Regions from separate parts of the Homo sapiens genome. Here region 2 is linked to region 1. The links come from fine-mapping of genetic effects on gene expression. A gene starts in region 1. The other region holds a variant in brackets. All regions are shown on one strand. Distances are between the middles of the regions.

Region 1 (2,897 bases):
CTGTGATTCATACTCCAAAATAATGGCCTCAATGTAGCTTGTCTTCCAGTTCAAGAATTACGTTGCCGACTCCTATCGTCAGAGAATGAGGGGAGGGGTGGAGGCATTCACCAGGCTCAGCCTCTGGTGCTGCCCACAGGGGCCCTTCTCTGTAGCTCCTGACCCCAGCTCAGGAGGGGTCCCGTGCTCACCTTTGAGTGCTGTCTTCAGCAGCTGCTGGGTCTCTGCATCAAAGGACTGGATTTTATACTCCTCTCTACTGGGCTCCCCCATGACTAGCCAGCCCCGGTAGCTCTTGACTGGGCTGGGAATAAGGACAGCACCTGAGGAGAAGAGGCGAAGGGAGCGGCCTCAGGTGTGGAGCGCAGGGCGGGTTCCGTCCTGCAGGCCCTGGACGGGGCTGACGGCGCGCTCGGGACAGGGACTCCTGGGCGGTCCGTGGCGTGCGGTGGTTGGCTGAAGGCCCACCAGGCTTGGCTTCTGGTGGGGACTGGGCATCAGCCAGGCACCTGCTGCTCAGTTTAGAAATCCCTCGCTTGTGGGATTACACAAGAGCGAGAAGCTGAAGCAGGAAAGCGCCCACCCTCCAGTCCCAGCAGGAGGCAGGAGTAGACTGGGGCAGGGTGTGTGCGGGCGGACGTTACAGTTGCTTAAATAAACCGGCCTGACGTTGCTGGCCCAGGAAGATGCCGGGTGAGGGCCAGGCTGGGAACTCCAAGCGGTGCGACTCTGTCCCCAGCAGGTCTCCGAGCCCCTCTCCCCAACCCTCTCTTTCTGGCTTTCGCCGAGTCCTTCGGTCTCAACACCCGCCGCTGCATCCCCCGGATGGGGCCGGCCTGCGTGGGTGGGGACGCAGGCGCCCTGTCCGCCGCCCCTGCCGGGAGCAGCCTGAACTCCCCAGACCCGTGCCAGCTTCTCCCTGGGACAGGCTGGTCGGATCGGCTCCCGAGTGGCAGTAACCCGGCCCTACGCACTCGAGACTCCTAATTCCTGAGCTCCATTCTGGAGCCTTCCTCTTACTGGGGGGCAGGATGATGCGCCCCGGAGAGGTGGCTCCCGCCGGAGGCTCCCCTCTGGCCGTAGGAGGCGCCTTTAGGGTCTCCAGCCCTCGGCCGTTCCCCCCGCGCCCGGAACGCCCCTCCCGGAGGCACAGGGCGGGCTGCGGAGCCCACGGCCCAGGGTCCCGCGGGCGGGAGAGGCGGCGTGGGAGCCGGGACCCACCTGCCGGGCCGGTGGCGCGCGCGCGTGCCCGGGGCCGCTCGGCGCCTGGGAGCGCGCAACCAGCGTCCGGCGCTGCGGGGCCCGCCGTGAGCTCATCTCCTCGCGCGGCGCCGGGGAAGGGTCGGCTCGCCCGCGCCACCTGCCGGGCCCCCGGGGCACTGCCCTGGCCTCCAGGCCGCCCCGGAAGCCGCGCCGCCTGCGTGGGACCCTGCGACGCTGCCACCCAGCCGCAAGCGGAACTCGCTTGGCTCGTCACCCCTTCACCCGGTGCGCCTGGGCCGTGTCCGGGCCCACGCCGGACCCGCCGGCACCTCGATCTTGCGCGTGGCCCCGCACCCAGCCCTCCCCGGAGCTCAGGTGCACTGGGCCGGGAGACACCGCTGGGCTGCGCGGCGTGGGAAGAGCCTGCAGAGCGCGTGGTGGGGACCTGGTGGCAGGAGGAACAGCATCAGCCCTGGTCGCACCACTTTCCCCGCTCCCCCAACCCAGGTAGAGAAGGCAGGGGCTGCAGGGCCGGGGCCAGCCACAACCCTCTCCCGCTCCAAGGAGGACATGGGCGAAGCGAGTTTCAGGTCATAGGGGCAGCCCCGAGAAAGGGGCCCCATTGGCAACTCGCGGCCGTCGGTTGTTGCGAATGCCCCTGAAGTGGCGCGGACCCCACCGCCCGGCGTCTGCCCTGGGTGACAGGAGGGCACCTAGAAGTGGGGGAAGAACTGCCGCCGCTCCTGCCGCGCGACCGGGAGGAGCGCTGCCGGCGCTGCCCGCGTTCTCGCCTCCTTTTAAAAGAACCGCCAAAGTGGTCACCGAAAACGGAGGAGGAAGAGAACGCTCAGCTGCAGCAAAAGAAACCAATGGGCAGGAAAGATGAAGAGAAGAAACTTTAACGGAATTTCATAAAAAATGCATTCAGGCAGCTGCATCCTCGTGGCCCCCGCCGCAGCCTGGACCTTGGGAACCAGCAGCCCAGAGCCAGGAAGCCCCAGCATTCAGGGCCCAGACAGACCCCAAAATCCCAGACCAGAGGCAGGGAAGGATGGTGCGAGGAGGAGCCCAGGACCCACACGCCAGGGCCAGGGCCAGCGCCGGCTCCCAGTGGGTGCCTCTTTCCAAGGCTGGAGAGGGAGGCAGAATGGAGGGCTTCCCAGGTCGGAGCAACCCTACAGGCCGGGCAGATGGAGGGAAGGGTGGAGGTCATGTTCTGGAGACCTCCCCTCAGCCTGGAACTGGTTTCTCCTCTGCCTCTCCGCCTGTGGGTGTCCCTCTGCTCTGGTAACACCCCAGGCACCAGCTGTGCCCTCACCAGGCTACGTGCCCGCCCCTTCCTTCTGCCATCCCCATCAGTGGGCTGCTTCAGAGCCACGGCCCTTCTGGGGCTACAGGGGAGGATGCACCCGCAGCATGCTCTGCACTGAGGAGCAGGCAGTGGGCGCTGATGCCACCTGTCCTGCTGATAGCTCCTCACCCAGCAAGGCTGACCCAGCTCTGGGTGAAAGAGGAGTCAGTGAGGTAGACTGGGGAGAGGCTGCACCTTCACCCACGCCTGCCCACAGCATGGCCCATCCACTTCCTGCACGGGCGCTGGGATCTGCTTTCCATGGAGCCCCACGGCCATGACCAGCCCGGTCCTGGGAGAGGACAGCCTGGGTGGTGGTGTGTCTGCAGACACGAAGGTCTGG
Region 2 (2,897 bases), 83 kb after region 1:
CATGATTCTGGGTCAGGCCCCAGTACCAACAGAACATCCACGCTCCCTGGAAATGGAAGGGTGACCAGGCATAAACGGTTCATTCTCCTGCTCACAATGACAAGTAGTTTCCCAAAGGAGAAAAGCGATCAGACATATTATGTGACAACTAAGATATCCCTACTGTTTGCAGCTACAGCCTGGTATCACTCAGCCTTTATGATCCCCTCTATGCAGTAAAAGTGTTTTAATGTCACGGATGTCTATGTATAATAAATCAATAATGATTAAGGCTATCAACTCTGAACTGACTAGCACCAAAATTTCCAGTTTTCTCTAGTTGAATTTTCATCATCAAGCTCACAAGACCGTTCTCTGGGAGAAAAAGTTAACTTGTTTTTTTTTTTTTTTTAAAAGACATAGTTGGCCAGGCACAGTGGCTCACGCCTGTAATCCCAGCACTTTGGGAGGCCGAGGTGGGTGGATCAGAAGGTCAGGAGATCGAGACCATCCTGGCTAACATAGTGAAACCCTGTCTCTACTAAAAATACAAAAAATTAGCTGGGCGTGCTGGCGGGCACCTGTAGTCCCAGCTACTCGGGAGGCTGAGGCAGGAGAATGGCGTGAACCCGGGAGGCGGAGCTTGCAGTGAGCCGAGATCGCGCCACTGCACTTCAGCCTGGGCGACAGAGCAAGACTCCGTCTCAAAAAAAAAAAAAAAAGACACAGTTGTACCTTGTATTCATGGGGGACTGGTTCCAGGACCCCTGCATATACCCAAATCTGTGCATACTCAAGTCCCACAGTTGGCCCTCTGCGTAAGTGGGCTGTGCATCCTGTGAATACTGTCTTTTTGACACACATGTAGACTGAAAAAAATCCGTGTATAAGCGGAACCATGCAGCTCAAACCTCTGTTGCTCAAGGGTCAACTGTACTTCCTTTACTGGTTGGGCTTCTGTATTTCCTCGAGTTTCTATGCCCTTAAAAAAAAAACCATTTTTACCGGGCGCGGTGGCTCACACCTGTAATTCCAGCACTTTGGGAGGCCAAGGCAGGCAGATCATGAGGTCAGGGGTTCAAGACCAGCCTGACAACACGGTGAAACCCCGCCTCTACTAAAAACACAAAAATTCGCCAGGTGTGGTGGCACATGCCTGTAATCCCAGCTACTCAGGAGGCTGAGGCAGGAGAATCGCTTGAACCTGGGAGGCAGAGGTTGCAGTGAGCCGAGACTGCGCCACTGCACTCCAGCCTGGGCAACAACAAAAAAAATTCTGGCCAGGTACAGTGGCTCATGCCTGTAATCCCAGCACTTTGGGAGGCCGAGGCAGGCGGATCATCTGAGGTCAGGAGTTCAAGACCAGCCTGGCCAACATGGAGAAACTCCGTCTCTACTAAAAATACAAAAAATTAGCCAAGCATGGTGGTGCATGCCTGTAATCCCAGCTACTTGGGAGGCTGAGGCAGGAGAATTGCTTGGACCCGGGAGGCGGAGGTTGCAGTGAGCCGAGATCACACCACTGTACTCCAGCCTGGGTGACAGAGCGAGACTCTGTCTCAAAAAAAAAACAAAAACGAAAGGGTGCGTGAGGGGCAAATGTTTTGAGTCCTTGCATGTCTGGAAATGTCTTGATTCTATGTTTATACTTGAAGGCTATTTCGGCTGGGTATAGATTTCAACAGAATCCTGGGCTGAACAGCATTTTCCCTCAGAACTTGGAAGAGACATTGTTTTCTGGTATTCAGAGTTGTACAAGCAAAGTTTATTCATGGTCTTTTTTTTTGGGGG[G/GGGT]GGGGGGGAGATGGAGTTTCACTCTTGTCTCCCAGGCTGCAGTGCAATGGTGCGATCTCTGCTCACTGCAACAACCTCCACTTCCCATGTTCAAGCGATTCTCCTGCCTCAGCCTCCTGAGTAGCTGGGATTACAGGTGCCTGCCACCACAACCGGCTAATTTTTCTATTTTTAGTAGAGATGGGGTTTCACCACATTGCCAGTGCTTCTCGTAGGAACACAAACCCTACTGTAAACTGCTCACGCGAGGGATCTAGGTTGCCCGCTCCTTGTAAGAATCTAATGCCTGATGATCTGAGGTTGAACAGTCATCCTGAACCATCTCGACCCCCCACTTCCATGGAAAAATTGTCTTCCATGAAACCAGTCCCTGGTAGCAAAAAGGTTGGGGACTGCTGGATTCAAGAATTGCTGGAAGAGCCCACTGCAGTCTTCCAAAAGATGTGACAGCTATTATTCAAACTTCCAGAAAGAGAACAGTGAAAATAGAAGAAAAGACACTACGAAATGTTTTTTAAAAAGGAAAAACTTAACTTCTCATAGCTGATGAATATGAATTTTCAGATAGGAAGGGCGCACTGAGAACCCAGCCATAGTGAATAAAAACAGATCTATGGCCGGGCACAGTTCATGCTTGTAATCTCAGCACTTCGGGAGTCTCCCAAGTAGTTGGGATTACAGGCACATGCCAACATGCCTGGCTAATTTTTGTATTTTTAGTAGAGACGGGGTTTCACCATGTAGGCCAGGTTGGTCTCGAACTCCTGACCTCAGGTGATCCACCTGCCTTGGCCTCCCAAAGTGCTGGGATTACAGGCGTGAGCCACCGCGCCTGGCCAGGACCTGTACTCGTACTTTTGTCCCTGTTCCTAGCAAAACAAAATTCTACGAAGGTGCTGAATCCCATCTCTTCTTGCCTGCTCAAGGACATTAACTCAGTTATTTTCCTTTCTTCTGCATCATCAATTTTAATTAAAATCTCTACTGGATTTTTCTAATCAACAAATAAAAATGCTGTCATTTCTCTCATCTCTGGGAGTGGGGTGAAAGCAGACTTCTTTTGACTCTACTGCCTCATCTCTCTGTTCCCCTTTAAATCAAAACTTTCTGGAACAGTTGTCTATACT

Alleles and levels. Positions count from the first base shown, and alleles are read on the strand shown. Sizes are in standard deviations (SD) of each study's normalised expression.
With allele GGGT in place of G in region 2, the expression in whole blood of the gene that starts at base 1,309 in region 1 is higher (moderate effect, 0.73 SD a copy in TwinsUK).

Evidence for each region. PIP is the estimated chance that this variant, and not a neighbour inherited with it, causes the effect.
Region 2: its variant is fine-mapped to the expression of MIF4GD in whole blood (TwinsUK, PIP 0.95).

Annotation. Positions count from the first base shown.
Region 1 is chr17:75,269,923-75,272,819 of GRCh38, forward strand. MIF4GD (MIF4G domain containing) reads right to left here and starts at 1,309. Exons shown (of 6, transcript NM_001370592.1): 1 at 1,222-1,309; 2 at 192-323. The coding sequence starts at 273. MIF4GD-DT (MIF4GD divergent transcript) reads left to right here and starts at 1,377. Exons shown (of 1, transcript NR_036520.1): 1 at 1,377-2,897. RefSeq lists silencers at 876-945, 1,056-1,715, 2,686-2,735 and an enhancer at 2,224-2,897.
Region 2 is chr17:75,352,500-75,355,396 of GRCh38, forward strand. All of the region lies in intron 2 of GRB2 (growth factor receptor bound protein 2), which reads right to left. Among named protein-coding and RNA genes, the nearest start is that of GRB2, 52 kb to the right of the region's middle. The variant G/GGGT (reference allele first, on the strand shown) is at 1,771.